4 linked regions of the Homo sapiens genome follow. The protein of the gene in region 2 purifies or fractionates together with the protein of the main gene of each other region. This does not show direct contact. Each region holds a gene or a part of one and is shown on either strand. Other genes may lie near its edges.

The links.
Region 1: the proteins of TMEM18 (region 2) and RBM38 purify together in Homo sapiens (affinity purification with mass spectrometry; one large-scale study listed by BioGRID and IntAct). This does not show direct contact.
Region 3: the proteins of TMEM18 (region 2) and MMAB purify together in Homo sapiens (affinity purification with mass spectrometry; one large-scale study listed by BioGRID and IntAct). This does not show direct contact.
Region 4: the proteins of TMEM18 (region 2) and TM9SF2 purify together in Homo sapiens (affinity purification with mass spectrometry; one large-scale study listed by BioGRID and IntAct). This does not show direct contact.

What each region holds. Positions count from the first base shown.
Region 1 is NC_000020.11:57,402,936-57,410,367, reverse strand, and holds the end of RBM38 (RNA-binding protein 38), read right to left. Parts: intron 2,826-7,432; coding exon 2,522-2,825; 3' UTR 1,035-2,521; downstream 1-1,034. UniProt on the Homo sapiens protein: RNA-binding protein that specifically bind the 3'-UTR of CDKN1A transcripts, leading to maintain the stability of CDKN1A transcripts, thereby acting as a mediator of the p53/TP53 family to regulate CDKN1A.
Region 2 is NC_000002.12:668,807-676,238, forward strand, and holds part of TMEM18 (transmembrane protein 18), read right to left. Parts: exon of another isoform or gene 6,970-7,432; coding exon of another isoform or gene 6,952-6,969; intron 6,825-6,951; coding exon 6,704-6,824; intron 4,057-6,703; coding exon 4,002-4,056; intron 1,045-4,001; coding exon 951-1,044; intron 870-950; coding exon 774-869; 3' UTR 1-773.
Region 3 is NC_000012.12:109,558,160-109,565,591, forward strand, and holds part of MMAB (corrinoid adenosyltransferase MMAB precursor), read right to left. Parts: intron 7,018-7,432; coding exon 6,960-7,017; intron 3,694-6,959; coding exon 3,621-3,693; intron 3,359-3,620; coding exon 3,261-3,358; intron 3,171-3,260; coding exon of another isoform or gene 3,084-3,170; intron 2,946-3,083; coding exon 2,881-2,945; intron 997-2,880; coding exon 937-996; intron 1-936. UniProt on the Homo sapiens protein: Converts cob(I)alamin to adenosylcobalamin (adenosylcob(III)alamin), a coenzyme for methylmalonyl-CoA mutase, therefore participates in the final step of the vitamin B12 conversion.
Region 4 is NC_000013.11:99,550,994-99,558,425, reverse strand, and holds part of TM9SF2 (transmembrane 9 superfamily member 2 precursor), read right to left. Parts: intron 6,260-7,432; coding exon 6,100-6,259; intron 4,123-6,099; coding exon 3,971-4,122; intron 2,891-3,970; coding exon 2,779-2,890; intron 1-2,778. UniProt on the Homo sapiens protein: In the intracellular compartments, may function as a channel or small molecule transporter.

The sequences.
Region 1 (7,432 bases), on a different chromosome or scaffold from region 2:
TCCTGGGACCCAGGAGATGTTTTCAAGGCCTCAGGGCCTTCCCGAAGGCCTGTCCCAGAGGCTGTCACCAGCTGATAGTGACAGGAAACTTGCAGGCTGCGAGTGGCCTTCACGATAACCCTGGCAGTACCCGTAGCCCCCCTCCGTGGATCCCCAAGTTCTTATCAGCTGCAGCAAGTCTCCTCCTCCGGGCTGAAAGCCCCATGCTGCCCTCCCTGACCCCTCACAAGCGTTTGCAAACTGAGACAGTGGGAGGGAGGGGCCAGCCGGCAGGGCCTGGGAAGAAGTGCAGACCCCCACAGAATCCCTATCCCCTCCCTGCCGTAAACCTGTCAGTCTCCATCACCCTGGGGCATTGTTGTGTCTCCCCCAGCAGATGATAAACCCAAAGGGCAGCCCTGTCTGCTCTATCCCCAGCGCTTTGCGTGTGACCCAGCACACGTCTCGGGATGACACAGTGAGTGAGCAATTCAAGGAAGGAGTTGATGGATTCTCCAGCCCTGACACCTCCTCTATGAAGGCCTTGTGATTTCCCCAGCTCTGAGTTCCAGATGCTGGGACTATCCAGCCCCAGACCAAGGCTTCCCTCCCAACTCTACCCTAAGGGCAGCTGTCCTGGACACCTGCCAACGTCCTCTCAGGAACCCACATTCAGGGTCTTCTGGTGGCAACCCCCCTTCTCTGGGGGAACTGTCCTCCTATTCCACAGGGATCTGGTGGGGCTGCCAATCACAATCCACGTCCAGGCCCCTCCCCAGCCACAGCGCCAAGAAGTAACCCAAGCGCAGTCCTCTCCGGGTCTGAAGCTGATGCTGGATGATGCACGGCGGCTGGGACGCCAGGCCTCCCCTGCATTAGCGGGTGTGAAGAGGGGCTGCGTCTGTTCTGCTACTGAGGCTCAGCGGCCGGTGCAGGCCAGGCGCTCTATGCACGGCTGCCAGTGAAATCCTGGGTTCCTGAGCCAGGAGGGCGGGGCATGGGTGATGCCCACAGGCACGAGGGGAGCTCTGCGTTTTGAGAAAAATTAGATCAACTTTTTCTTTAAAGAAAACAAGTTTTATTTTTATCATCAGAACATTCTAATAAAAATATTATGATGAGATTAGCTACCTTTATTCTCTGAGCCTTGACTCTGTCCCAGGCCTGCCCTGGAGCGCCTGCACGCTCAGCTCCCTGAGGTAGGTCCGGAGGGAGACCCCCCGCTGCCCCCCGCCCTCGGCCAGGATACCTCTCACCTCATGTCCCCTCCTCCAGACCCCCACAGCCCTGGATGCCCCATAGCAGCCCTGCCACGGCTGGCAGAACTGCCTCCACCCTCCACCAACCCCCAAGACAGGCAGGAACCGTCTCAGGCTGGCACACAGCAGGTGGTGCGGGGGTAGAGGGAAGAGGCGCACCCTTCTGCACTCAACCGCTCCAGCGGGCAGAGCTGAGGGCCACTGCCCCCCCCAGGCTGGCACCACCATGGTCTAGACCCCAAGTGGCCTGAATGCTGTGGATCACTTCCTTCTCCCCTTCCACAGTGTTTGGGGAGTTGGGGAGGAAGGGAAGGGAGAGGAGTGTCAACGTCGCAGTGACGGGGTCCTGAGACAACTCACTCTGCCACCCCGGCAGGCGGCAGCAGACAGTGGCCCGCACGGGCCTGAGGGGCCTCCTGTCTGTGGTGCCCATCCCACCGAGAGGATCCTGGCCCGCGAGCCGGCAGACACTTTATTATACAGAAACACTATCGTCGTCTCCACGGGCGGAACCAACAAAAGCAAGTCTCTCCAAGTCAAAAATAGGTTTTGGATTCTTGGTGGCGGCAGTATCCGCTGAAAAAATAGACTGAACTTCTGAAATTATCTTAGTAGCAAAACAATTACAAGAAAAAAGTTGCAACTTCAGTGCTATGACTGGAAAGGGGCCTTTGGCCGGCGGCCCCTGTTACCGGCGGCCCCTGTGCGCCTGGGAGCTCCTCCGGGCTTGAGGAAGCCGCCCACGTGCCCTGATGGAGAAAATGGGACTCCAACAGGAGGCCGTGTCCTCACACCTCAGACTGCGCTCACAGCTCGGGAGGATCAAGTTACAATAAACAGTCCATTAACTTCTTGCTTTCAGGTTTCCCTGGAGTCAGGCATCTCTGCACAGTCCAGGGCAGCCAGGGGCTGCAGAGGGTCTGTGACACCCCGCCACGATGCAGCAGTGGGGACACAAGCCTGAGGGAACCTGGAGTGTGGAGAGGCAGGAGAAGGTGCAAGGAGAGGCTGCCATGGTGTGCAAGGAACCTGGGATTGCGTCTTTAAATAGTTCTCAGTCATTCTTAAAGTCCTCCCTCAAGACACAATGGGACCTAGATTAAAGAGAAGCCGTCTCTCCGCTGTCCCAGGGCGCAGGCGGAATGCCCGAGCGGTCTTCGGAGGCACGGGTGCTGGTGGCACCTCACTGAAGCTCAGCCGGGCTGTCGCCAGCCCATCATGGCCTGGCAGCTCTGTCTGCTGTGAAGGTGACAATGCCACAGTCCTCGGGGCAGGAACGCCCCTCACTGCATCCTGTCAGGCTGCAGCTGCGGCGCCTGGTACTGCACGAAAGTGGTGCCCGCGGGTGCTGCGGCTGAGAGGGCCTGGGGCACGGCGGCAGGGTAGCTGTAGCCCACGAAGCTGGCAGCCGTGGCAGGCGAGGCGGCGTATGGGTACTGGTCATAGGTGGCCGGTGGGTACTGGGCGTAGGCCGGGCTGGCCGGCGTGTACTCAATGTAGGGCGAGGACAGCGACGGGACAGGGGCGGCTGGGATCACCACGCTGGGCTGCACGATGGCTGGTGGGTAGATGTAGTGCGGGGTCAGCCTGTGGGGCCAAGCAGAGCAGGTTAGGGCCAGAACGGAGTTGGGGAATACAGCTGGGAGAACAGTGGGGTACACGATGCGTGCCGCCCCCCACCCCGAGCCCCGACTTTCCTCATCGGTCAGATGGGCACAGAAACAGCACCTGGCCAGATGCTGCCGCCTCAAGGCCTTCGCACTGACTGTCTGCACTAACCACCAGGCTCCCTCCTCCACTCCATGTCTCCTTCTCAGCAAGGCCTTCCCAGACTGCACCCCCGCATCCCAGCCCTACACCCCACATCCCCGGAGCTGGTGCAAAAATAAAAATCTTGAATGGTTGTTTTCAAATGATTGAGAGTTTGAAGCCACGACGGCGGAGCATGCGATCAAGAGCAGGGCCCGGTACGAATGTCCTGGTTGCATGTCTGGGAGGCCAGCCCTGTCCCCCTTCCCTGCTCATCTCCCTGACACTCAACACCCACCAAGTGACACTGCACACTTGGCTCATGTACACGCCTGCTCTCCCAGCCAACACCTGCTCCTCACAGGGTTTGTTTTTTTTTTTTTTTTTGAGACAGAGTCTCGCTCTGTTCCCCAGGCTGGAGTGCAGTGGCGGGATCTCCGCTCACTGCAAGCTCCGCCACCCGGGTTCACGCCATTCTCCTGCCTCAGCCTCCTGAGTAGCTGGGACTACAGGTGCCCGCCACCACGCTCGGCTAATTTTTTTGTATTTTTAGTAGAGATGAGGTTTCACCGTGTTAGCCAGGATGGTCCCGATCTCCTGACCTCATGATCCGCCCACCTCGGCCTCCCAAAGTGCTGGGATTACAGGCGTGAGCCACCGTGCCCAGCCCTCACAGGGTTTCTTTCTGTCCCTGCCAGCATGGACTCTGGCCTGCAGCAGCTCCGTGAGGATGTGAGAGTGACTGCGTGAATGCTGGAGCAAAGGAGTGCAATGGCGGTGACCACAGAGATGATGGCGCCAACAGCTGCCATACTCGCCAGCGCCCACGCTGGGGGGAGACCCGTACTGTGACTGGGTGCGTCACCCCGTCGGCTTGGTCTTCCCATCATGAGGCCCATTTCACACACGGGGCCAGGTGAGTTGCCCAAGGTCCTACAGCTGATGAGGTGGAGGGGCCAGGAGTCAGCCGGCCTCAGAGCTGTGCTCTTAACCCTACCTGGGCAGGCCACTGTGGAAACGCATTGAGGCCAACACTTCCTGCCTGCTGTGGGCTGGCCATACAACAGCATGCCCAGCCCTCAGCACAGGGGGAAATGAGGCTCAGGGAGGCAGCTCTCCTGGCGTGTGCCTGCTCTGCCAACCAGCTGCTCGGTGGCCTGGGGCAAGCCGCTAAGCCTCAGTTTCCCGTCTGCAACAGAACAGCCACCTCCGCGGCATCAGAAGCTGCTGCAGAGTCCGAGGCACGGAGTGGTCTTCCAGGGCACGGCACTGTGCCCTGGGCATCAGTATCTCCTCTGCCTTGCACGCCTGCGTGTTACACAGGCCAGGCCCGCCTGGGGGGTGACTTGGAACCTCAGCTTCCTTCTGACCTGTAGGCAGGGGCCCCCCTCAAGGGAAGCAGCTCTGGAGAAAAAGTACAACATCCTTCCCTGCATTCTCCTGCGTTCGGCAGGGACAGAAACTGGGCAGCTTTCTGGAGCGCGGTTTGGCAACATGTGGGCACTGAAAACACAGTGCTCCCTCCCCAGAGCCAGGGACCCTCAGTGTCAGAGAGGAGCCCTGCGAGCTCCCTCCCCAGAGCCAGGGACCCTCAGGGTCAGAGAGGAGCCCTGCGAGCTCCCTCCCCAGAGCCAGGGACCCTCAGGGTCAGAGAGGAGCCCTGGCTTCCAGCACAAAGGCAGGTGCACTCAGTGGATCCTGCAGCCCTACAGCAACGGTGGAAACCAGGAAAACCTGGACGACAGGGCCTCTTGCTCCCCCCACCCCATCTGGGAAGTGTGTGGGAAGTTTCTACACTGCGTCACCCTCTCTACTACTGTTTACCTTCCAAGGTTGAGCCATCCTAGTGGCTGCTGTGGCCACACCTGCAGCCCACACGGCCAACCCTCCACAGCATCTGTCCAGAGGCCCAGGCAGCTCCTGCCAGGAACCCCGCAGTGGCGCCTCCTGTCCCTCTCCCCAGGTTAGAAGCCTCTGCTGTCCACCCTGCATCCTCCATGGGAACAAGGGCCTCGCGCGGAGCCAGGCCTGGGTTTGAATTCTGACTCTCGAGCTGTGACGCCTTTCTCACATATCTGCCAGGATGCAGAGAGGAGCAGACCACAGAGCCCCTGCCCTCGAGGGGCTTAGCTTCTAGGATGGGAGAGGCACCAAAATGCACCAACCCATAAACCAGAGTGGGGGGCTCAGGGGAAGTCAAGACAGCAGAGGGCTGTGATGTGTGGACAGCGATGGGGGAAAGGCCAGGGTGGCTTCTTGAAGGAGGGGATGCCTGCAGAGACCTAATGATGAGGCAGAGCTGGCCACAGGGGAGCAGCATGGCGGCACAAGGGCGGAGGCAGGCGCCAGTCTGAGTGTCTGAAGAGTGGATGAGGGCAGCCGGCAGCCTCTGTGCACAACCCTCTCGTGGCACCTCCACCATGGGGGCGGCCGGGTCTGCTGACCCCTGGCTTCCACTGCACACCCAGGTCCACCCTGGTGCCGGCCCATGCCCCACAGCGCCTCAATCCCTCGCATCCTCCCCACCTGGGCCTGGCACCTGCCAATGCCTCTGCCTGGAGCCCTTAACCTGGCGAGGCCCAACCCCACATGGAGGCCAGCCCCTCACCTCGCTACGCTGCCCGATGCCCCACTGGATGGCGTTCTGTCAGGGAGATGGCTCTGTCTGGACTCCCAGCTCTCTGCCAGGACCAGGCCTGTAGGAGGCACTGGGCACATGGTGCTGACGGAACAAAGGCCCGGTGGGTGGCACAGACCCCACTGAGAAGGATGAGGAGCTCTGGCCAGCGGAGGCAGGGGGCCCCAGAAGGGTCTCGGAGGCCTCCCTTGGGAAGGGGGCGAGTGGAGACACAGCAAGGACTGTCTTGGGGCTGTGCCCAGCAGGCTGTCCCTGGCATCATCAGTGCCCCCCCGACCCAGCTCTCAGAACCTCGAAAACATTCCTTAGTAGGAGGCTATGGAAGCTTTGAACCCACACACCTTCTCCAAACATGGGCAGTGATGCCCCTGCCTCAGACATCTCCCCGCAAGGTTTTGCTAAAAATGTGGATCCCATGCAGACTGCAAAGGCAGATGGGGCCCAGGAATGTGCAAGAACAGGCCCCGGGGTCCTGATCCACAGCTGCATTCAAGAACCGCTGCCCAGACCAGGGACACAGAACACAAGTGCCTGGGGCTGTGGGGCAGCTGGGTTCCGGCCACACTCACCTCGAGGGCTGCGTCATTTCTATCGGGTTCTGATGCCCCACATCATCGGGGCCAGAGCGCTGCCTTGGCCACCAAGGAGCTGCCCTACTCAGGGACACTCAAACACAAGCGTGGGTGAGCAATGTTTAGGCTGGGGAGGAAGGCGGGGCTCTCCTGTTTCCTGACCCTTGCAGACACTGCATGTCGGTATCTACTCATCTTTCTGTACGTAAAGGGCCTGGGATAACTTACGAAGCATTTTCAAAGCCACGGAAGGCTGGGCGCAGTGGCTCACGCCTGTAATCCCAGCACTTTGGAAGGCTGGGGCGGGCAGATCATGAGGTCAAGAGTTCAGGACCAGCCTAGCCAACATGGCGAAGCCCTATTTCTACTAAAAATACAAAAATTAGCCAGGTGTGGTGGCGGGAGCCTGTAATCCCAGTTACTCGGGAGGCTGAGGCAGGAGAATCGCTTGAAACCAGAAGGTGGAGGTTGTGGTGAGCTGAGATCATGCCACTGCACTCCAGCCTGGGCGAAAGAGCAAAACTCTGTCTCAAAAAAAAAAGCCATAGAAAAGATGCTAGTGTTAGCCCATCTCCCAGAGAGGAAATCCGAGGTTCAGAGAGGCCCCAAGCGACTTGCCCCATCGCAGAGCAAGGGACTGGTACAGTGGGGCCTGCTGCTGGTAGCTGTGCCTGCAAGGACTGGCTGGGGCCCCAGGTTCAGCTCAAAATAAAAGGAAGGCACAGCACGGGCCACACCTCAAGCCCCAAGGGGGAGTGAGAACACCGGCTGAAGTTAAGGTAGAAGCAGCCACGAAGCCCCGCCAGGCAGGAGCTGGGTTCCAGCAGCTTCTCTCCCTCCTAGGGTTGCGCCTCGCCCCTGCACTTGTCTGAGTTACCAAACAGGTTTCAAAACTTCCAAGGCGCAGTTTCCTCATCTGTAAGTTGGGTCCTACAGAGGCTGACCTCAAAAGCTTGCTGTGAGGCCTAGAGGTGCCACTAGAACAGCGATTCCCAACCAGGACAACTGTGCCCCCAGGGGACACTGGAAAATGCCTAGGGACGGTCCTAGTTGTCACAACTGACAACTAGGAATATGAGGTGCGGGTGGGGGTGCTGCTGACATTAGGGGTCGAGGCCAGGGGTGCTGACCGCTTCCTACAATGCTCAGGGTGCCCCCACAACAAAGAACGATGCCGTCCTAAAGGTCCGCAGTGCCAAGGCTGAGACGCCCGACTGTGGACCATCAGAAACCAC
Region 2 (7,432 bases):
TTAGGAAAGACACGCTTCTCCATGGAGTGTTGACTTCAGGGCTTCCATTCTGTTTTCAGTAAAGCAGCCCATAACTTTGCTAGAGAGGGCCTAGCCTCTTGTGAATTGGTTCATCAAACTGAGATACAACGTATTTTCCAAGAGCTTCCTTCCAAGGTCTCTCTGCCCCAGCACAGCTGACATTTCATGTCAAGTCATTGTCTGTGATGCGGCTGACCCAGGCACACAGGATTTTATGCATCACCCCGGGCTCCACAGGAGAAGCCAGGAGCACCACCCCCTCCAGTGACAACCAGGTGTCTCCAAACTTTGCCCCATGTCTTGGAAGGTGAAAACACCCTCTACTGCGAACTGTGGCATGCACTAGAAAACACAGCACGAGGAGGAGGGCATGGTGCCCATGTACAGGTGGCACTGTTTATTATTGAGTTTCATATTTTATATTGTGTATTTTATATTTATAATTAGTACTAGTTACACATATGACATGGACTTCTTCAAATCAAATTCCCAGTTATGAAGCTCTGCAGAGACCGTTCCCACAGCCTGACTACAAAGATCAGGCACCTGAAGACGCATGTCCTGATGGATACATTCAGTGCTGGCTGAAAAGCCAACTTCAGTGTGTGCCCTACCACTGTGGATATTTAAATAAAACAACGGTTTTTCAAACCATGAGTCAGCTGGAAGGATGCCCACGCCACGCACACTGCAGCACTGGGAGCTGCACTGGGTGGACGGGAAGGACGCAAACTCCAAGCAGCTGCTGCCCCTCAGTCTTCTTTCCTTCTCCTTTTCTTTTCCTTTCTTCTCTCTTGTGCATTCTTCAGGTCAGTCATCACATTCAAAGTCTTCCATACCCACATAACCTAAACACAATTGTTTGAGACATGTTTAGATTTGAAAAACATACACATGAAGAAAGACAACTGAAAGTGTCATCTACGTACCACAATGATCATGGCATTCACCAGCAGTGGGGCTGAAAATACTATAGAAATGAACATCCCCCTGGAGTCGAAATACTGGTATTTCGAAAATAATCTGTTTAAAAAACAAAAACAAAAAATTACTAGGCAATACAACCAAAAAGTTCTAGTGACACCGTCTATTTAGATAAGACTTTGGAGAGAGCTGATGTGGACTGAGGTGGGAGCAACACCCTCACTGGGCCCACCCTTGGGAGCAGCGGTAATCTCCACTGTACTGTCCCAAATGCAATGAATGCTCATTATGAAGAAAACACACTGGGTCACAGGACAGGGAGACACCACCCAGCAGCACAGGAAAGACCCCGAGGCCTCCCCCAGCAGAGAGACGTCACCCTGCAAGCCCTCTGGGTCATCAGCAGCACATCTGACCTTAGCTGGAAGACACTGATGACTTGAAATCCTTAAAACCTACAGAGTAACAACGTCAATAATCCCCTCCCCGTAAATGACAAAGGGACAGCAGCTGCGTCTGCTCCACAGCTGCACTGGGAAGGAGTGGTGCCGGGCCCTTCCATCCCTTTGGTTCTCATAGCAGGTCCTCTTGCTGTCAGTGCCAGTGCCTCTTTAGCAGAAGAGACTGAGGAAGGCGGAAGATCTCCACCTGCACAAAGGTACAGCGCCAGGGAGGGCAGAGGATCTGCACGTGGGTGTTGATGATTCTCTCAGCAGCCAGCACAGGAAATGCCATCAACAAAGCTAGTAATGGTGGGCAGTGGGTCAGCGCCTTGTGAGCATGGGGCTCCTGCCTTGCTGGCGCTCACAGCTAGTAATGGTGGGCAGTGGGTCAACACCTCATGAGCATGGGGCTCCCGCCTTGCTGGCGCTTACACTCTATACCATGGGAGGCCCAGAAGTAAGAGGCAGCCAGTCCAAGCATGTGGCGAGTGCTGCTACAGAGAAATGTGAAGCCTGTCGGGGGTGAGGGGGCCTCGTGGAGTCGTAGGCACAGCCATGAACGGCTGGGACAGAGCTGGCAGGAGGCCGCAGGGCATCACTGCAGGACTCCGCGTTTACTCTGGGGGAGCTGGGGACACTCTGGAACGTTCTGAGGGGCAGTGCTTGGCTCTGAGGCCCACGCTTCCCCAGGATGCCCAAGAGGCTGGGCAGTCGGGGGACGGCTTAGGGACCGCTGCATGTCAGCAGCGGGTCGGCGAGGGTGGGGTGAAGGGCATGGAACACACTGGGCTCGTGGCTGATCTTAAAGGTGGAGGGACGGAGCTTCCTGAACAATGCCCTGTTACGTCTCTGGTCTAAGAAGCTGGAGGGAGAAGCCGCCCCTACGAAGAGGGGGGAGCAGAGCAGTCGGACTGAAGTGTGAATTTTGAGATGTTTGTTAGACGTCCTGGTGCCCAGTCCAACAGGTGGGACAGGCAAGAAACCCAGCGCTTTTGAAACCAGGAGATCTCGGAGAAGCATGAAGACAGGAGGCTGCGGCCAGAGGGAAGGGAGGGGCCAGAAAGGTGCTGCACCCTGGAGCTGGGTGTGGGAGGGCTTCGGGGAGGATGACCCTGTGCCAGCCTCTGGACAAGGTCAGGGTCACCAGGGACTGAACACCCCTCCTGGGACTGAACCATGTGAAGGCCCTGCATCCGGGAGGAGAGGCAGGGTCCTCCTGGGACTGAACCATGTGAAGGCCCTGCATCCGGGAGGAGAGGCAGGGTCCTCCTGGGACTGAACCATGTGAAGGCCCTGCATCCGGGAGGAGAGGCAGGGTCCTCCTGGGACTGAACCATGTGAAGGCCCTGCATCCGGGAGGAGAGGCAGGGTCCTCCTGGGACTGAACCATGTGAAGGCCCTGCATCCGGGAGGAGAGGCAGGGTCCTCCTGGGACTGAACCATGTGAAGGCCCTGCATCCGGGAGGAGAGGCAGGGTCCTCCTGGGACTGAACCATGTGAAGGCCCTGCATCCGGGAGGAGAGGCAGGGTCCTCCTGGGACTGAACCATGTGAAGGCCCTGCATCCGGGAGGAGAGGCAGGGTCCTCCTGGGACTGAACCATGTGAAGGCCCTGCATCCGGGAGGAGAGGCAGGGTCCTCCTGGGACTGAACCATGTGAAGGCCCTGCATCCGGGAGGAGAGGCAGGGTCCCCAGTGAGCCGCTTATGGCTAAAGAGAGGGCAGGGAGGAGGGAGGGCAGAGACAGTGCTGCAGGGACGCTGTCGTGGAGGGAAAGGCTGAGCAGGGAGGAGCAAGGCAGGAGGAGGCCGAGTCAGGGGAGGGTTCGGGAAACCAGGCGGGGTCTAAGCAAAGGATTTCAGGGAGTGCTCAACAACCCCTTTCGGTGAGGGCCCAAGATCAGTGTTCAGGGCTTATGGGCCACAAGGCCACAGTCTCAGCTCCTTCCTGCTCAGGGTCTGGCAGTTTTACTTTTTTTCTGTTTTATATTTTAAAACGTAAAAGCCATTTTTAGCTCACAGGCCACTCAAAAACAGTCCGTGGGTCTCACTTGACAGAGGCTGTGTGGTTCAACCTGGGCAGGTGCTGGGTTCCGAGTCCCCTGGGATGAAGCCAGGGGTAGAGGAGGGGGCAGAGGACGCAGGGCCAGGGCTGCCAGCGGTGCCCCCCGACATCAGGATGTGGGGCTGGGGATGAGGCAGGCAGGTGCCCCAGACCACCCAGAAGCCCCCTACTCAGGTCCAGACTCCCCATGGAGCAGCCACCCTGCAGTCCAAGGGGGAGGGCATGGCTGAGGCCAGCGCGGACCACGTTCTCTAAAATGCTGCTGTTTCTATTCTGCAGCTCAAATTCCCATGGCCACTTCTCTGGCTCTGCCATCAGAGGCCTCAGCCAGCACTGTCCCACAGTGCCACGCTCAGAAAGGGCCACTGTGGCGCTGGTAAAGCATTTACGGAGTCACCCTGGAGCCCACCAACCCTGGATGCACGGGCACGGGCTGTGCACAGCTGCCACGTTAGGATTCACTGTCTCCTCCGCGAGTCCCACCGGCTGTGGGGCCATTCCCAGGGACACCCCTGCAGGGACCTGGTCACAGGCCCGGGGGTGGGCTCACCTCCAGTTCATCGCAGCCGCCTCATTGATGTATTCAGCACAGTAGACTAAGATGACTGAAAAAAGGTACAAGTCATATTAGAATTTAGATGGCCCGTTATTACTCGTTATAAAGTTATACATTCTTTACAGCAGAATACTGAATAGAAATGTCACTTTAATTTTAAACATAACATCAGGTAAACATCCTAACATTGTCAAGTCGTAGGACTCACCCATTTAGCAGAAAGAAAATCAAGGCCAACAGTGCTTCAGTTCTCCAATGCTCTATGGTCTCACTCAGAGCCCGTGCTCAGGTCAGCACCTGCAGAGCTACTGCAGGAGCCGCCCGAGGCCCCAGGCTTCACCCAGGCATGGCTGGACCTCACACATTTCCCCAGGGACAGCAGCCACAGTTCAGCCCCACAGAACACGGCAGCAGGAGCTGAGAGCCACGAGACCCAGAGCTGACAACCAAGGGCTTTTCACGCTCACACTTCCCGGGCTGACCTTGGGACACTGCCACTGAGATGACCATAGGAGGGGAGCGAACAGCTTTGGGGTGCTGGAGGCAAAGGCACGGGAGGGAGGGCAGCAGCTGGTGGGGGCAGGGCAAGGCCTCCATGCTCCCAGGAGCACACAGACTTTAGGGACTGGCCCAGGGTCTTCAGCTAATTCGTGGGTAATGCTGGTACTCAAACCCATGAGACAGTGACCCATGGTACCATAAAATCAAATAAAATATGATTCGGCAAATTAAGAAAAATGTGATGCTTCAACTTCCAAGGTAAATCAAACTAAAAATCCTTTCATTCTTCTTGATACACATCAGAAAGCAGATTAAACTAGGGGCTACGGTGAGCAGTCCCTCCACTTCCTCCCTTCAGGAATGGACTCAATAAAGCAGAGGAAAAGAATGCACAGGGAAAGAACCAGAGGGGAGGGGAGGGAGGAGGAGGAGGAGGAGGGGGAGGATGGGGGGGAAGGAGAGGAAGGAGGGGAAGGAGGAGGGCCAGGAGAAGCAGGACAGCCAGGCAGGTGAGAAGGGTAGGCTAACACAGGAGGTGGTGGGCATGGGTGCGGGGAGGAAGGTGTGGAGGGCTGACGTTACAGGGGGAAGGTGGGGAGGGTGGTAGGCACGGGAGGAAGGCGGGCAGGGAGGGTGTCACCAGGTGCTCCTCCTCAGCTATTCCTGAAATGCACCCTGGAGCAGAGTCTGAATCTTGAATCTTGATGGTGCTGGTTATAAGCTGTATAGCTGAGGGAGTTAGAGAACCTCTGCATGTTTCATTTATAAAAATGGGCAAATAAAATCCAACTCTTGGCTGGTTTGAGAAATGAATCACAGGAAATGTAATGGCAGGCAGCACAGTGTCTAGTATTACCCCGGTGTGAAAGCAGTCATCCTTCCCCTTATCCTAGAAAACATCAAACCCTTTGTGCAGTTCTCCAGCTGACAAAGCTATTCAGATCCAGGAGCTCAGCTGGTGAAGCCATCACCTTTCTTTGAGATGCCTGCCTCAGGGCCTCTGCGTGGGGCACTTGCTCCTGCCCTCTGCCAGCATCTCACTGCCTGGCTCCTGCCTATGCACCTTTTGCCCCTGGGTTCCCAGGGGACTGTGTGATTTAAATCAGGCCGCTCCTCCTGTTTCACTGTGTTTTTGGCTTTTCCATTGCAACACTTGTCACTGTTGATAACACAGGTCTGTGATGAATCACTGGTGCTGGTGTCCCCCAGGAAGCTGTGGGAGGCAAAGGAGCCCTGTCTGCCTGGTCCACTCCAGCACTCCTCAGGGCACCCTCAATACAGAGCTTGCTCTGAGCGCCTCACTTGCATAGGCCCCCACTGTGATGCAAACCCTCATCACTTCTCCAGTCTTTCTAAGATCATCTCTTCTTCAGATTTCCCGCTTTGCACACAGCCAGCTAACTAAACTTATCTGAAATTAGTTATTTTTAACTACCAAGCAAAATCTTCAGTGTCTCCCCAATGTTGAGAGTCAAGAGTAGCCTGAGCCAGGCCTCCAGGCCCTCCTCGCCTCTTCTACCCACACGTGTTCGTAACGCTCAGCATCAGAAGTGCTTAGGTCCTGGAGGGCTTGCAGTTTCTCTGCCTCTGATCCACACCTTCCATCTATCTCAGTCTCTGCATGTCGGGCTGCTGCCCTCCCAGGGCCGTCACCTGCTCCCTCTCTTTTCTTATTAACATTTTACTCACTCTTCACACCCTGTGCCATGATTTCAGCTTTTCTGAATAATCTTTCTCAGTCATCCTGTGCAACTCCCTAACTTCTCTAAGTTCTGTAGCCCTTATCCTTGAAACCAAGTTGGGCAATGCCTTATTTTATGCACAGAACTTTTCTTTCCCAGTTTGCAATCTTCCTCCCATTCAAAGCAGTGCATGAGCACAGCTGCCACCAAGGACGCATCTTGTGTAAAAGACAGCACTTCCGGAAACCCAACTCTCCTGTGTGCAGCTGGTGCTCAGCACCTCCCTGGTAGGCAACAGGAACTCAACAGATTCCTCTCAACTCTAACATCCAAAAAGTAGTTTTCTTTATAGCTTCCAAGAGTGAAAAACGGGAGTGCCCTGGGAGCAGGCACATGACAGAGGGTTGGGAGGTCTTGTAAAAATATGTATATATTTCGAAGACACAGACAGAACATACACAGTTTCATTTCACACAGTGATCTGAGTTGTGGAGTTTGTGTTGTTTTACTCACCTAGACACAGAAAGTGCCCGATCTGTAGTCTGTAGCTTCGGGAGGACAAGCAGGTGAGGAGCACGCAGAGCGCGTGGAAGGTGGCCAGCCCCATGAGCCAGGGCTCAGTCCAGTCCGTCTGCTGTAGGAACACACCAGCAGACACTCACTGTCCTGCCACTCAAGGCCGGGTTCACGGCCCACCCACAGCCTTCTCCCAGCGCAGGAGGCAGGGGCCTCTCACTCCTGAGTCCTCCTGGGCTACTCACCAAGTATCCAGAGAGCATTGCCAGGCCTCAGAGAAACATGGGGACAGGAAAGGGAGAAGGAACCAGGAGGATGGAAACAGGATTCTCCCCTCAGTGCAACTATAATTCATGGAATTCAAAGTTCAAGCACACAGAACTGAAGGCATCTCTGATGTGCTCCTTTCGTTTGTGGAACAGAATCATGTTTTTAAGGTGGGTATAATTAAAGGAATTACCATCCTTTACGATGATAATTGGTTATGATAATTGGTGACGACAAGGAAATTAAGACGATTGCTCAAAGAGATGCACTTGGCTCAGCCCCAAAGGTAAAACATGAATCATCATTTCAGACTCCTTAGTCAGCACTGAAGACCTCAGGGAATCTTGAGCCATCGCCACGTGCAAGACTTGATTTTCTCCAACCTCTCTGCAATACACTGAACTCTCCAGACAGTGCCGCACTCCGCCGCCTCCTGGACTCCCCGGGACCCTGCTGTAC
Region 3 (7,432 bases), on a different chromosome or scaffold from region 2:
TATTTTACCCCTGGGCCGCATGCTCCTGGAGGGCAGTGGTGTGCCTGTTGCTTGTTGGCTCTGTGAAGCCTCACTGAGGAGATGAAATGGCCTGTCCCGTGCAATGCTATGGGACCGCAGGGTTGCTGCTTTGAAGGTGAAGTAGACCTGCTCCTCACTCCCGGCGAAACCCCCCTCCCAGAAGGAAAGGAGCTGCTCAGGACCCGTCAAAGCGCCATGTCTCTGGGAGGAGTGGCCACAGTCAAGGGCCTGAGGTCACTTTCTAGACACCCAGGACAGCTCCTGGGGTGCAGACCTGCTCCCCCAGCTCTCTACCTGCCCCCAGGCTCTGGCCTTGCCCACACTGATGCCACAGAAGCCAGGGCTGGGGCAGGAACCCGCAGAGCAGGCTTTGGGCCAGGTGTGGCTCCAGCCTCATGGGCCGGCCGCGAGGCAGAGGAAGCCCTCCCTGGGCTAGCCTGGCTCACTGGGGCCTGCATGGGGTCCCCTGAGCGCAGCTTGGCCCGGCTCTCTTGTTGGTTCATGCTGCCGCAGGCCCTCTCGGGGACAGGAAACTGGCTGAGAGAGGGCCTGAAGCCTGGCTCCCTGGTCAGTCACCACCGAGAGGCCTCCCCTGAGCACCCAGCCTCTAAGAACGCCCTTTGCCCCCGCAATGCCACTTTGCACTTAGGTTTTTCTTCCTGGTTTTTACAGCAGCCTCTCCCAATAAGATCTAAATCTTATCGGGACAGGCACAGGGCCCACCTTGTTCACCACTGCCTCCCCTGTGCCCGGCGTGGTGCCTGGCACAGAGCAGATGTTCATAAACACTAAGGGAATGAAGGAGGGGGTGCGGGAATGCTGCCCCACACTGCTTCCCGGACCGCTGCACCGCTGCTACTTCCCACAGATGAGCCTCGGCTTTCAGAGAGGAACCCCCAGGTTCCACGCGAGTACCTGTTTAAGAACTTGGCCACGTTCGCATCGGTCTCTCCCATCTGGACAAGAGGCACCACACTAGAAAGGGAGGAGACACTGAGTCACGTGACATTATGGGGCTCAACAGGCTCTGACCTGGGCCTAAACCTTGAGCAGCATTTCACATCCTGCCACCGCTCAACCTGAACCTGCACAGGCTCGGCCGGCAGTGGAGATGACAAATCCATCACAGGTGGGTTTAAACAGGCCATCGGCCCCCTTTCCACCAGCACATCGCAGGACGGCCTGGCCAAGGAGGGATCAAGGATGGCTGGTGAGTTGAGGGAGCCACCTGGCCTACACCACACCCCAGCCAGCCAGCTTTTGTACCACTGGACCTGGGTCTGGGTGGGGTGAAGTTGGGGTGGTCTGCCTCTAGCCTTCAAAGGAAGTGGGGGCCTGACCCTTAATTCCCAATGGGCTAAACTCTAAGCCCCTTGTACATCATGACTTAGAACAACTTCACAGGGGAGAAAAAGACCCAGGCAGACCAAGCTCCTGATTCCGCAGGATTCTGGATTCCTGGGGTCCATGCCAGTCTATTTGCAGATACATTAGACACTGGACGGCCATCTGCTGGGCACCAGTGTGGTGGCGGGCCCTTGCCGAGCCTTTCCCAGGTATCACCCTGTGGCATACCCCTTGTTGGCAAGCCAGCTACCCAAAGCCCAGCCTCAGGGTTCTCATCCCCACCCAAAGCCATGCACCCGGCTAGCGGCCCAGGAGGGTGTGCACCCAGGCCTGTCACAGAGCTCCAGGCTGTCTCTAGTGGGCACCGCATGCTCAGCGAGGAGCTTCCTCACCCGAGGTGCCCCAGGTGTGTGTCCCCACCTCAGGACAATCTGCACCTTGCCACTGCCATGGCTGCGTAACTCTCTGCTGCATGGAGGACCTATCAGCTGCTCCGCCATGCCTGTTTTCGGGGCCTTTGGGTTGTTTCCAGTTTCTTGCTATTATGAGCACTGCTGATGGATGGCTTTGTACAAATGACAGTTTTTTCTTTTGAAGCCAAAGCTTGTTCTGTTACCTGGGATCTCTAAGGAGCTATCTGGGCCCGAGAGCCTTTCATAAAGAACAAAACCTTAGTGGTGTGGGACCGTGGAAGAGCTCAGGCTTGGCCCAGACAGACGTGGACTCCAATCTGGATTCTGCTATCAACCATGTGGGGGACCGTGACCATGGTGTCATTTCTCTGAGCCACAGCTTCCTGACTCCTGTAAAACAGAGGCCACCACCACCTCTCTCCCAGGGCTATCAACAAGGAGTAAATGAAATTATGAACATAAAGTGCCAGTCCATTGGATCAAAGTAGGGCTTGCTTTCTCTTCTCTGTAAAGCTGGCTGGCAGCCTGGTCTCTGAGTGGTGTAGATAGAGACTTTGCTCATTTTCTTCTAAAGATTCCTTGAAAAGGCTGTCAGTAGCTTTGGAGGAGGTGGTGGCTAGTCTGCTGACAACGTCCACCTGGGCTCCCCACAGCCATGCAGGCCTTTCAGGAGCCTTATGCACCCAGCAGCCAGCAGGGTCCTTTCATGTCTACCCCTGTCCCCAAGATGGCTGAGGCTGAGAACCCAGCAATAACTTCCTGCTGTTCTCAGAATACAGGGCTCACAAACAAGGTGCAATTGTGTTGTCTGATAGTCTATTTGGTCACATGTCACTGTCTCCACTTCACAACATGGTGCTCTGAGGACAGGGACTTGGTCTGTCCTGGTCCCCGTCTGGCACAGTGGAGGGGCCCAGACAAGGTCTGTTGATGTGTGGCTGGATGGCTCAGAGATGGCCCTGCTGTACCTGCCTCCTGCCCGCTGTGCAGAGGCCCCTCTCCCTCTCCCCATCTCCGTCCTCCTCTCCCTCTCCCTCCCCCCTCCCCCTTGTTCCTCTCCCTCTCCCTTGGGCCCTCTCCCTCTCTCCAGCCCTCTTACCGTCTCTCGGCCCGGCGGCACACGGCCCGGCAGAAATGCAGCGCCGAGCTGATCTTGCCTCCCGACTGAAAGGAGAAAGGGACATTGCCTGAGCAGGGTGGGAAAGGTGTGCCCACTGCGGACAGGAGCTCCTCTGAAGTCCAGCCCTGCCCCCCAAACCGGGCAGTGTTCTGCCTCCAGGAGCCCTGCCACGGCACACCCACCGGGCACGCTGCTCCAGAGTGGGCAGGGCTGGGAGGGACCGGTGAGGACCTGGAGGGACTTGGGGAACTGGAGGACAGCGTCTGTCACTGTGAAAAGAGGGATTTATTCAGAGCCCATGTGTGTCTGTCACTGAACCTGCCTGCAGCCGCCCCCGGTTAAGCCTGCCCAGTACCTACAGGCAGGATGAAGGCCGTGAGTGGTGGGAGCTGGCTGGTGTACTTGTCGATCCACTGCTCCAGCTCCAGGATGGGCCCCGCCTTGAACGTGGTATACTCTGAGGAGCCAAGGAGCAGAGGGAACTGCCATGAGGCCATCACCCACCAGACCATGGCGGGAACCACCCCCGCCGCCCTTCCACCTGGGTGTCCCGCAGACTGCTTCCACTGGCTCAGAAGGTACCTTCCCTCCCAGGAGCTACGAGCAAGGCTAACTGACCCACCCGTGGGTCCCTGGGGGCCTGGGATCCCAGATGGTGACCCTAGGAGAGTCCCCTGACCCTAGGGCCCTCTGAACACCCACAGGAGTTTGAGAATTACTTAAGTGAGCCTCCCGGGCCGAGGAGCATGGTGTCGCCAGGGCCGAGCCGACGTCCTGCAATGTGCACTGGATCTGGGGGGCGACAGAAAGTGACAGTCAAGATCTATGTGAGATGGGCTGGACAGAGACAATGTGCAGAGGCGCCACCTAATACGCCGGCAAAGCCTGTGCCAGCTAGCTCATGAAGGGCTGTGATATGGTTTGGCAATGTGTCCCCATCCAAATCTCATGTTAAATTGTGATCCCCAGAGTTGGAGGTGGGGCCTGGTGGGAGGTGATTGGATCATTGGGGTAGTTTTGAATGGTTTAGCCCCAGCCCCCTAGTGCTGTCTTGTGATAGAGTTCTCATGAGATGTGGTTGTTTGAAAGTGTGTAGCACCTCCCTCTTCACACTCTCTCTCTCCTATCAGCCATGTGAAGATGTACCTGCTTCCCCTTTGCCTTCCGCCATGACTGTAGGTTTCCTGAGGCCTCCCCAGAAGCAGAAGCCTGTACAGCCCACAAAACCATGTGCAGATTAAACTTCTTTTCTTTATAAATTATCCGGTCTCAGGTAGTTCTTTATAGCAGTGCGAGAACAGACTAATACAGGCTATCAGACCTTGAACTGGCTGACATTTGAAAGCAAACTCTGAACTTTCAGCACAACATCTTCGTTGGACACCCAGCCCTGCTGAGGGGGACCTGGTGTGGCTCTTTTGCAGTCTGAGGGAGGAAAAGGCTCCCATGGGGGCAGCAGCTGGGTTAAGCAGATGACACGCATCACACACCCAGGGACAGTCAAGAGGAACCGTCTGGGCTCTGTCCACGTCTCCTGTGCACCTAGGCCCTGTGAGGTTTTCTTCTTTTCTCAACATTTGACAGCTTTGGTTTTCTAACCTGTAACAGTTGGGCCAAGAGGTCAAATGTGACAGTGCTTTCTAAACTCTAAAGGACAAGGAGCTTGGAGAATGTAGTCAGCCGAGGCGTGTGGGGATTCTGGGAGCAGGAAGCCTGGCTGGGTGAGGCCTGTGCTCTGTCCAGGTGGGGAGTGGGTTTGCTTGGAACAGAAGTGGTCTGTTAAGGTCTGCTGCAGGACTCCAGGCCCCTGCATGACAAATGTCCAACAGCTCTCATGCATGTGAAGACCACAAGTACCACCTCTGACTTTGTGCCCAGCCAGGGTCCACTCAAGCTGGATGGTGGGCTACCAGGAGGGTGAAGGTCTGCGACTTCTGACCTCTCCTAAGATGGCCACTGTGACAGCATTCAAGAAGCAGGCCATGGTGTGTGAGAGCAGAGGCTGCCCATCCAGCACTGGGCTGGAACCTTCCCAGGGCTTCTGACCAGCAGACCTTGGGCAAGCTGCTTCCCTGCTTGGGGTCTCTGCACTTTCACAGTCAAAGCGGGAGTGATAATACTACCCACTTGGTTGGCCACGTGCAGCGTGTACCCCAAGGGCTGGGGAGAAATGGCACCAGTTTGGGAATCAGATTCCAGCTCTACTGATGCCTGGCTGTGGGGGCTGGGCAAGTCAGCCTTTCTGAGGCTCAGTTTGGCTCCCTATAAGCTGTGGACATTAACTTCCACCTCACGGGTGTCTGTGAGGGTGAAATGGGTGATATGAGGAAAGCAGTGGCATTGCTGCCCGGCCTCATCCACAGGCCCTGCGAGCGGCTACCAGGCCAGGCGGGGCTCCCAGGTGAACCAGACACTGTCCCCGCCCTCACAGTGCCAAGGCTGGGTGGGAGGTGGATGGGTGAACAGGTTAACACCCCTTGTGATGCCTGTGGTTAGAGGATGTGGAAATCCAGGAGCAGTGCCTAACCCAGCTGGAGATTAGGTGGCCAGGGAAGGCCCTTGAGGAGGTGACGTGACAGCTGCGACCCAACGCGTACAGCAGACAGAAATGACCGCTGCTACCGCGGCTCCTCAGGAGGTTGAAAGCCTTCCTCCACCACACAGAATGTTCTGGCAGCTGAGGCTTCCTCCTGCAGCCACAGCCTGTGGCAGCCCCACCTACTACCCTCCGTCTGTTCCCAGGGGCCTGAGCAGGCTCCAGCCTGGGCTTCAGAACGGAAGTGGGAAGGGCTGACCCTGCGGGGAGCGGTTTCTGGGGACCTGGGTCCATGTGGAGGTGGAAAGTGCGGCACCCTGGGCATTCTGGGGTGGTGACCCTGTCTCCGTGCTTGAAGTTCTCTGCGTGGGTCAGAGGCCCCCTCCTTCTTAGGGAACAGAACAGTGACACTGTGACGCATGAGTCCCACGGGCTGAGGGCTCACTGCAGCTAGGCTTCCCAGGTTCCCTCTGCATCGGGCATGAGCGAGGCACTTCACACCGGCTTTCTCAGCCTCGGTGCTATTGCCATTCAAGGCCGGGTCATTCTTCGTTGACGGGGGCTGTCCCCTGCATTGCAGGATATTTACATGCCAGCAACACCCCCAACACCCAGATGTGGCAACCAAAAATGTCTCCAGATATTGCTCAGCGGGCCCTGAGGGGCAGAATGGCCCTGGGTTGAGAACCGTTGCATTTTAAATTCCCTCATTTAGTACAATCCTCCCCACTCGCCTGTGAAGGAAGATTATATGTCTCCAGTTGTTTGTTTTGGAGACAGAGGTTTTTTTTTTTTTTTTTTTTTAAAGACAGGATCCCACTCTGTTGCCCAGGCTACAGTGCAGTGGTGTAATCACATCTCACTGCAGCCTCAACCTGTAAGACTCAAGCGATTCTCCCACCTCAGCCTTGTAAGTTGCTGGGACTATGGGTGCATGCCACCATACTTGGCTAATTTTTAATTTTTTTTTTTTTTTGTAGAGACAGGGTCTCCCTAAGTTGCCCAGGCTGGTCTTGAACTCCTGGCTTGAAGTGATGCTCCCACCTTGGCCGCCCAAAGTGCTGGGATTACAGGCTTAATTGAACCATGGTGCTCGGCCTGAGACAGGGTCTCAATCTCTTGCCCAGGCAGGAGTGCAGTGGCATGATCACAGCTCACTGCAGCCTTGACCTCCTGGGCTCAAGAGATCCTCCTACCTCAGTTTCCTGAGTAGCTAAGGCTACAGGCATTCACCACTATGCCTGGCTAATTTTCAAATATTTTGTAGAGTCAGGGTCTTATTATGTTACCTAGGCTCCTGGCCTCAAGTGATCTTCCTGCCTCAGTCTCCCAAGTAGCTGAGATTGCAGGTGTGAGCCACCATACCTGGCCTGTCCGCATTTTACAGATGAAGAAATGGAGCTCACAGAGGGAGAGTAACTAGCCCCAGGTGACACAAAGAGTAACTGGTGGCTGGATGCTGAGTCCCGTGATGGCCACCGGGGCTGAAGATTCCCAGCTTGGGTGAGATGGTGTTACTCACTTTCTGAAGCTCTTCGGCAAATGTATGGCCCTTTTCTGTGACTAATTCCAGAGCAAACCTATGAAGAAAAAGGAAAAAGAATTTGCCTGTAATGTAATGTCCCTAGGCCCTGTCTTGCCATAAACAATAGATTCTCAGGTGGCAGGCCATTTAGTTAATTTAGCTATAATAGCCATGTTATTTTTCTTGCTAACAATAAGAACATTATAGCCTTCCATTTGGGGGCGGTGGTATTTGTTTCTTGAAATGCCTTTTCGGATGCTCATTATTTCCAGTCAAGAATTCCTTTTGAACAGCTACTCTGGCCAGGCCCAGGAGAGTCAGTGGTGAACAGAAGCTGACCCAGGCTCTCTCCAGCAAGTTGGTGACAGGGTGAGCAGTGACAGTCTCAAGTGCTGGATCCTGAGCTCTGACCCGCAGCCCTGTGGTGATAGGTGAGTGGGAACCAGACAGACCCAGGTGCAAATTCTGCA
Region 4 (7,432 bases), on a different chromosome or scaffold from region 2:
GCAATACTCTTCAAAATGATCTACAGATCTAATGTAATCCCTATCATAATTCCAATAATCCAATGATTCAATTTTTGCAGATTGGAAAAGTTAATCCTCAAATTCAAATGGAATTGCAAGGGGCTCCAAATAGTCAAAACAATCATAAAAAAGAGCAAAGCTGGAGGACTCAGCCTTTTTGATTTCAAAACTTACTACGAAGCCACAGTAATCAAAATAGTGTGGTACAGGCCTAAGGGCAGCATATAGACCACTGGAATAGTATTGAGAGTCCAGAAATAAACCCATACATCTATGGTCAATTGATTTTTGACAAGATTGCCAAGACCATTAAATGAGGAAAGAACAGCCTCTTCAACAAATGGTGCTGGATAACTGGATATCCACACGTCAAATAATGTAGCTGGACACTACATCACACAAAATACAAAAGCTAACTCAAAATAGATCAATGACTTAAATACATGAGGTAAAGCTATAACACTTAGAAGAAAACATGGGGGTAAATCTTCATAACCTTGAATTTGGCAATAATTCTTTTTTTTGGTCGGGGGTGGGGTAGGAGACAGGGTCTCACTCTGTTGCCCAGGTTCTGGAGTGCAGTGGTGTAATCATGGCTTACTGAAGCCCTCCTGGGCTCAAGTGATCCTTCCACCTCAGCTTCCCAAGTAAGCCATCACACCCAGCTAATTTTGTTATTTTTTATAAAGACAAGATCTCACTATGTTGCCCAGGCTGGTCTCAAAATCCTGGGCTCAAGCGATCCTCCCGCCTCAGCCTTCCAAAGTGTTGGGATTAGAGATAGGCGTGAACCACCACACTCAGCCCTAATTTGATAATAATTCTTAGATATGACACCAAAAGCATAAGCAACGGAAGAAAAAAAAACAGATACATTTGACCTCATCAAAATTTAAAACTTTTGTGCAAAGGACATTATCAAGAAAGTGAAAAGGATAACCTATAGAACCAGAACTGCAAATAACAATCTGATAAAGATCTACTATTCAGAATAAATAAATAAACTCTTACAACTCAACAAAAAGACAAACAAATTTAAAAATAGGCAAAGGACTTGAATAGCTATTTCTCCAAAGAAGATATACAAATGGCTAACAAACACAAGTACAAATGCTCATCATTAGTCACTGTGGAAATGCAAATCAAAACCAGAATGAGACACCGCTTCACACCCACGAAGACAGCTACAATTTTTTCAAAAATGGAAGGTAAGTGTTGGCAAAGATACGGAGAATTGGAACCTTTGTACACCACTGCTGGTGGGAATGTAAAACGGCACAACCACTGTGGAAAAGTTTGGTAGTTCCTCAAAAAATTGAACAGAACTACCATATGACCCAGTGATTCCACTCCTAGATATATACCTCAAAACCAAAAACAGGTATTCAAACGAACACTTGTACATGAATGTTCACAGCAGCACTATTCACAACAGCCAAAAAGTAGAAACAATACAAATGCCCACCAATGGATAAATGGATAAACAAATTTATCATTCTGCCATAAAAAGGAATGAAGTGGCCAGGCGCGGTGGCTCACGTCTGTAATCCCAGCACGTTGGGAGGCCGAGGCAGGCGGATCACGAGGTCAGGAGATCGAGACCATCCTGGCTAACATGGTGAAACCCCGTCTCTACCAAAAATACAAGAAGCAATTAGCCAGGCATGGTGGCAGGCGCCTGTAGTCCCAGCTACTCAGGAGGCTGAGGCAGGAGAATGGCATGAACCCGGGAGGTGGTGCTTGCAGTGAGCTGAGATTGCACCACTGCACTCCAGCCTGGGCAGCAGAGCGAGACTCCGTCTCAAGAAAAAAAGGAAAAAAAAAAAAAAAGGAATGAAGTACTACTATACATGCCATGATATGATGAACCCTGAAAACATGCTAAGTCAAAGAAGCCACACACAAAAGGTCACATATTATATGATTCAATTTGTAAGAAATGTCTGAACAGGCGAAACAGACAGAAAGCAGACCGTTGGCTGCTAAGGCCTGGGGGAAGTGAGGAATGAGGAGCAACTGCTCAGCAAGTATAGGGCTTTAATTAGGGGTGATAAAAATATTTTGGAACTAAACAGAGGTGGTGGTGGCGCAACACTGTAAATGCAGTAAGTGCCATTAAACTGTCCACTTCAAAATGGTTCATTTTCTGTTATGTAAATTTAACCTCCATTTTTTGAATAACACACTAAGTTTAATAAAGTTAGCTTTTTCTCCAATATAGACAATATTAAATAGTAGATTTAACACAACCTAAATCTTTAAAATTCAATTCTACCTATTACATAAGGATACTATCATTTTGGTGCTGCCATGAATAGAACTCATTACAATGTGATTATAGAAACTTTTTAATGAATTTTCTTACTAGTTTACTTTTATTAAATTTTCAGTCTAAAATTTTTTTTGTATTTTTTAATAGATTATTTTATATTCTTTTATCTCAGGCATGATATAAATATTTGTATCACAAAAGTATTAATTTTTAAGTCAGTTAAAAAACAACAGTAAAAAGTTAGCACAACATACTATTCTCAGAAAATTAACAAGTTAAAGTCTCTAATAGTAATTTCCAACTAAATATACTGAACTGGGATATCTTAATCCTAAAGAAGGTTACATTTGATTTAGGAATACAGGTCAATGTCTATCATAATAAACATACATCTACAGAAATTATTTTAATTAATAATATACAAATTGCAATATGCCAAAGTTACTGTCTACAAATTAACATAAGTGAATACTGCTAATACATACCTCTGCACATAGGTGGAAATAGCAAAGAAGTATAGTTGCTTCAGAACAGGTAATAACCAAAATGATAAACACCAGAAATAGGAAGCCAAACATGTAATACATCTGGTGTGACCTATAATCAAACACGTCAAGAAGGAACTATAAATATTTTCAATTTGACACAATACATAACACAATCTTTTCATTCTTCTTGAACTGAAAAGGTTTGCTTTTTCTCTCAACTAACCAAACAAGACGAATTATCACAGGTTGGGATGGTGATGGGGTGGGGAAGGGGAGGAGTAGGAAGGATATGTCAGTATCACTGGACTTTACCTTCCTGCTCAGGGAGGCCTGAAACTTCTACTTATTTACATATGGCTAGACTACTCGTCTCCTGGTGAGCCAGAGATATTTGATAAAAAGTGACTGAAAAGGCAGAGCCAACTAAGAATAGGTAACCGTTTCTTATCACATATAATAAAACCAGTTGAATTTGGAAAATTAGTATAACGATTAAGAAGCAAAGATATGTTCTAATCATTAAAAAGCTCAAATTTAGTTCTAACTTTCTGTAACCTCCAACCTTGGTACTTCCTGTAACATACGTCAATGTGATCCAATAACAATCATGATATAACACTATATATAGATATACACACACACAGAATGGCTCAAAATGACTATTATGAGTTTTTACATGTGAACAAGCAATCGGAGAATGAAGGCATCTGAGAATTGCAAAGGACTCTGCAGGTCACCTAGACCAATCCCTTCACCAATCCCCTCCGACAAGTGCTCAGAGGATCTTCTCTGAACAGTGCAGATTAGTTAGGAACATAGGTTTGGAGAAACTTCGGTGAATTTTCTGTCACAGGGTTGCTGTGTAACACAAGCAAATTACTCAACTTACAAAGCCTCATTTACAGCTCTGTAAAATGGGGATAACACTCACCTCACAGAGAATGAAGTAGTAAGAATTAAGGAAGAGTAAGAATTAACAAGCCTTGAATTCATATTATACTAGCTGTTATCACTATTGTTCTTCTTCCAACATGGAAAAGATAAAAATAAGCTTTTGGCTTTTAAGATTTCTGGTTACTGAAGAACTGCTTACATTTACAGGATACAAATAGTAACCCATATAAACAAACAAAAAGGAAATATTACATATAATGGTAATGAGAATGAGAGGACTTTATCCTTAGCTTACCAAATACTATTCAGAATGAAGAAAAGTTGTATAAAGATGCAGCCAAAGGGCAAAATCCCTCCCATGATAATACCAGGCAAGGGCTTCGTGTAGAACGACTGTTCAGGAATCTGACGTGGAATCTGATTGGTTCGAACTGGGTGTTCAATGGCCTTCAGTAAAAAAAGGAAGGAAGAATTCATAATTACGTATCTGTCTCAAATATTCTTCTCTACACGAGATTATTTGCCTGCTTTTTTTCAGCTTCTATGTTGTCACTAATGGCAATAAAGTCTACTTAAGACATCAAACTGAAATTTGTCTTTGGAAGCCATCATCCAGGTACCATCAGGTACAATACTCAGTCTGTCTACTGGAACAAGTTAATACTGTCTCCAGCAGTGATCTACTGACTAATGGCTTTAGACACAGGAAAAAGTACACAGGAGATAAGAGAATACTTGGAAAATAATAGTTAATAAAAAGGTAGAGTTAGGCTTTTCATTTTCATTACACATGTACTGTAAGAAATCAGCTGGTTCTGGAATTTTGGTCCATGTATTTTTATTTGGAGGTGCGCAATGTCATCTTTACTAAAATTGCTCAATTTTACTAAGACTTAAGAACATGAAAACAACAATGAATGGCTGTATGAAGCTTTACGACCATAAGGAGTTGGTGATGTTCTCGACTATTCTCCCTTTCATGACACACTACATGGCGGTATAAAAATCACTGGAACCTAAAGGACACAAGCAGCCACATGAGGGGGGAAGACAGTACAGATGTAGAAAGTCATTTCCTTGTAAGAAAGTTCAAAAATATCCTTCTATAGTTTTTGTGATGATAAACCAAAATTTAAAACTTGATATTTTCATTAAGACCATACTTCCACAGACTAGATTATTATTTTACATGTAGATGCATGAGTATACAGGCAGAGAATCATGTATATCAACTTTTATTTATTTCCAAGGCTGATATTAAATAGAAATACTATAAACTTCAAACCAGCAAAGTTTTGGAATTTCAAGTAATTGTTTAATCAATGTAATTAAAAAATTCAAACCCTGTCAGTTCACTACTTCTGAGGTATAAAGTCATAAATTAAACAAAATGCCGAAGAAGTTTAAAAAAATCCTTCAGCAGCCAGGCATGAAAGTGCAGTGGAGGCTGTGGAACAGTGCCAGCTTCTGCCAGGGCCTTCCGGGTCCTGCTCACAAAGTGTACTAACCACACAGTCTTTCTTTTACCCTGTGGACTTGATATTTTCAGAGGACAGGGATACTGAAGTGCGGTTAGAGAAGGATACTGATGAGACAGAAGAATAAGATCTCGTTTTTGTTTTTCTTTTAGCCTGAGGGCAGGAGTGGGCAGCAAAGTGAGAGAAGGCCGACTGGAGGGTGAGAGGGAAACTGGAGGAAGGACTGAAACCTGATTATAATCTTCCTTAAAATCCAATATTAGCAGGGAAGCAGATACAATTTATTTCCAGCAGATACAATTTATTTCAAAGCTACATATCAACCACAAACATTTGCTACTCTTACTCTGCAGCTACTTTTCTTACAGTGACTTCTTCTCTGCTTACTTAGCTAAGCTTTGTGCACTTTGGGAGGCCCAGGCAGGTGGATCACCTGAGGTCAGGAGTTCAAGACCAGCCTGACCAACGTGATGAAACCTTGTCTCCACTAAAAATACAAAAATTAGCTGGGTGTGGTGGCACATGCCTGTAATCCCAGCTACTCGGGAGGCTGAGGCAGGAAAATCGCTTTAACCCTGAAGGTGGAGGTTGCAGTGAGCCGAGATGGCGCCACTGCACTCCAGCCTGGGTGACAGAATGAGACTCCATCTCTAAATGAATGAATGAATGAATGAATGAATGTTTTCATTAGTTTATATCAGCATTTCTTTCCCAATTAATCTATATTAGCTTCTATTCACTTAAAAAACTTTGAAACCTAAGTTTAGATCTGTAACCTCTCTACCACGCTCCTAAATAATACTACTATTTTAAAAATATTCTATGAAATCCAGATCCTAAAGGACAAGTTTACATCTTTACACACTTTTATGGTATCTTTTGAGATGGCATATGCTAATTTCTGCAGCTAAAATTCACCTGAATAAGTTAACACCTATAAACTTACATTCTTCTTAAAACCAAAGTATGCACCAATAAACGTCAGAGGCACAGATATGCAGAACCAAAGGGCCAATATGGCAACCAGTGTCCCAAAAGGAATAGCTGCTGAAGATCCTTCTCCCCAGAGGATCAGATTCATTATAAAGAAGTCAGCAAATACAATCCTGAAAGACACAACAGGCTTTTGGGTAAAACCAGAGATAACAAAATGCAACAGTAGTATGTAATTAATATGACAACTTCTATGTTTCTAATATATATATACAAAGAAAGTGGAATTGCTGCATCACAGGATGTCTGAATGTAAAACTTGACTAGAAACTACCCAATTGCTCTTCAGATTGGGTTTGCCTGAGTTAAACTCCTCCCAGCAGCCTATGAAAGTCAGTTCCTTACATGTTTTCATTACACTTGGGATTGTCAATTCTGTTGTTTTAATTTGTATTTTCTATTGAAAACTGCAGCAGGCGTCTGGTGTTTGCTGGCTTTTTTGGTTTTACCTTCTGTGACGGGCTACTGACATCCACTGCTTGGTTTTCATTTGACCTGCATGTCTTGCCAAGTCATGTATGTGAGTTATTTACATATTCTACTTACTAATTCCTTGTTAAATATCTTGTCACAGTCTGTGGCTTTTTTTGAACCCAAACATCTAAATGTGTGTAGTTAATTTCCATTCAGTCTTTCTTCTGAATACATTTTTAAAAATATGGTTGTAATCATACAATAATCACTGTACTTCCCCCACACAGTTTTTAAGCGCAACCACTTTCCCTTTTATCCTTTGTGCACTCTGCTTAAGAGAAGAAAGCCTTCCCTAACCTGGGACCATGAAGATGCTCTTCCATATTTTCACACAGTAGTTACGCCTGGTGCATTTAGGTTTGACTCCACCTAGGACTGACAACTTTCTCCCTTCATGAAGAGAATCAGCTGTCCCAGCATCACTTATCTAACAGTTCCTCTGGCTCATGGTGCCACATCTAGCACGCTGCCATGGATACAGGGCCTGCTTCTGTATTCTCCATCCCAGCAGCCCCTGGACTTTCCAAACACCTTCACAATGCTTGATCTTTTCATTAAGAAACATGGCAAATTTCCATCTCTTTCGAGTTAATAATCTTGTAGGCTTGTCATATGGATTGTGCATACTTTGAGAGGTTATTTCAGGCACTGTATGGGTTTTCTGTGAATAGAGCCCTCTTCCAGCACAACTACCACTACCATTAAAACATTTAACTGGTTAATGGTGCTGTTTAGGATCTTGGAATATTAGTTGATACCTAGCCATTTTGCCAAACTCTTTTTATTAATTCTACAAGTTTTACAGTTAAAAT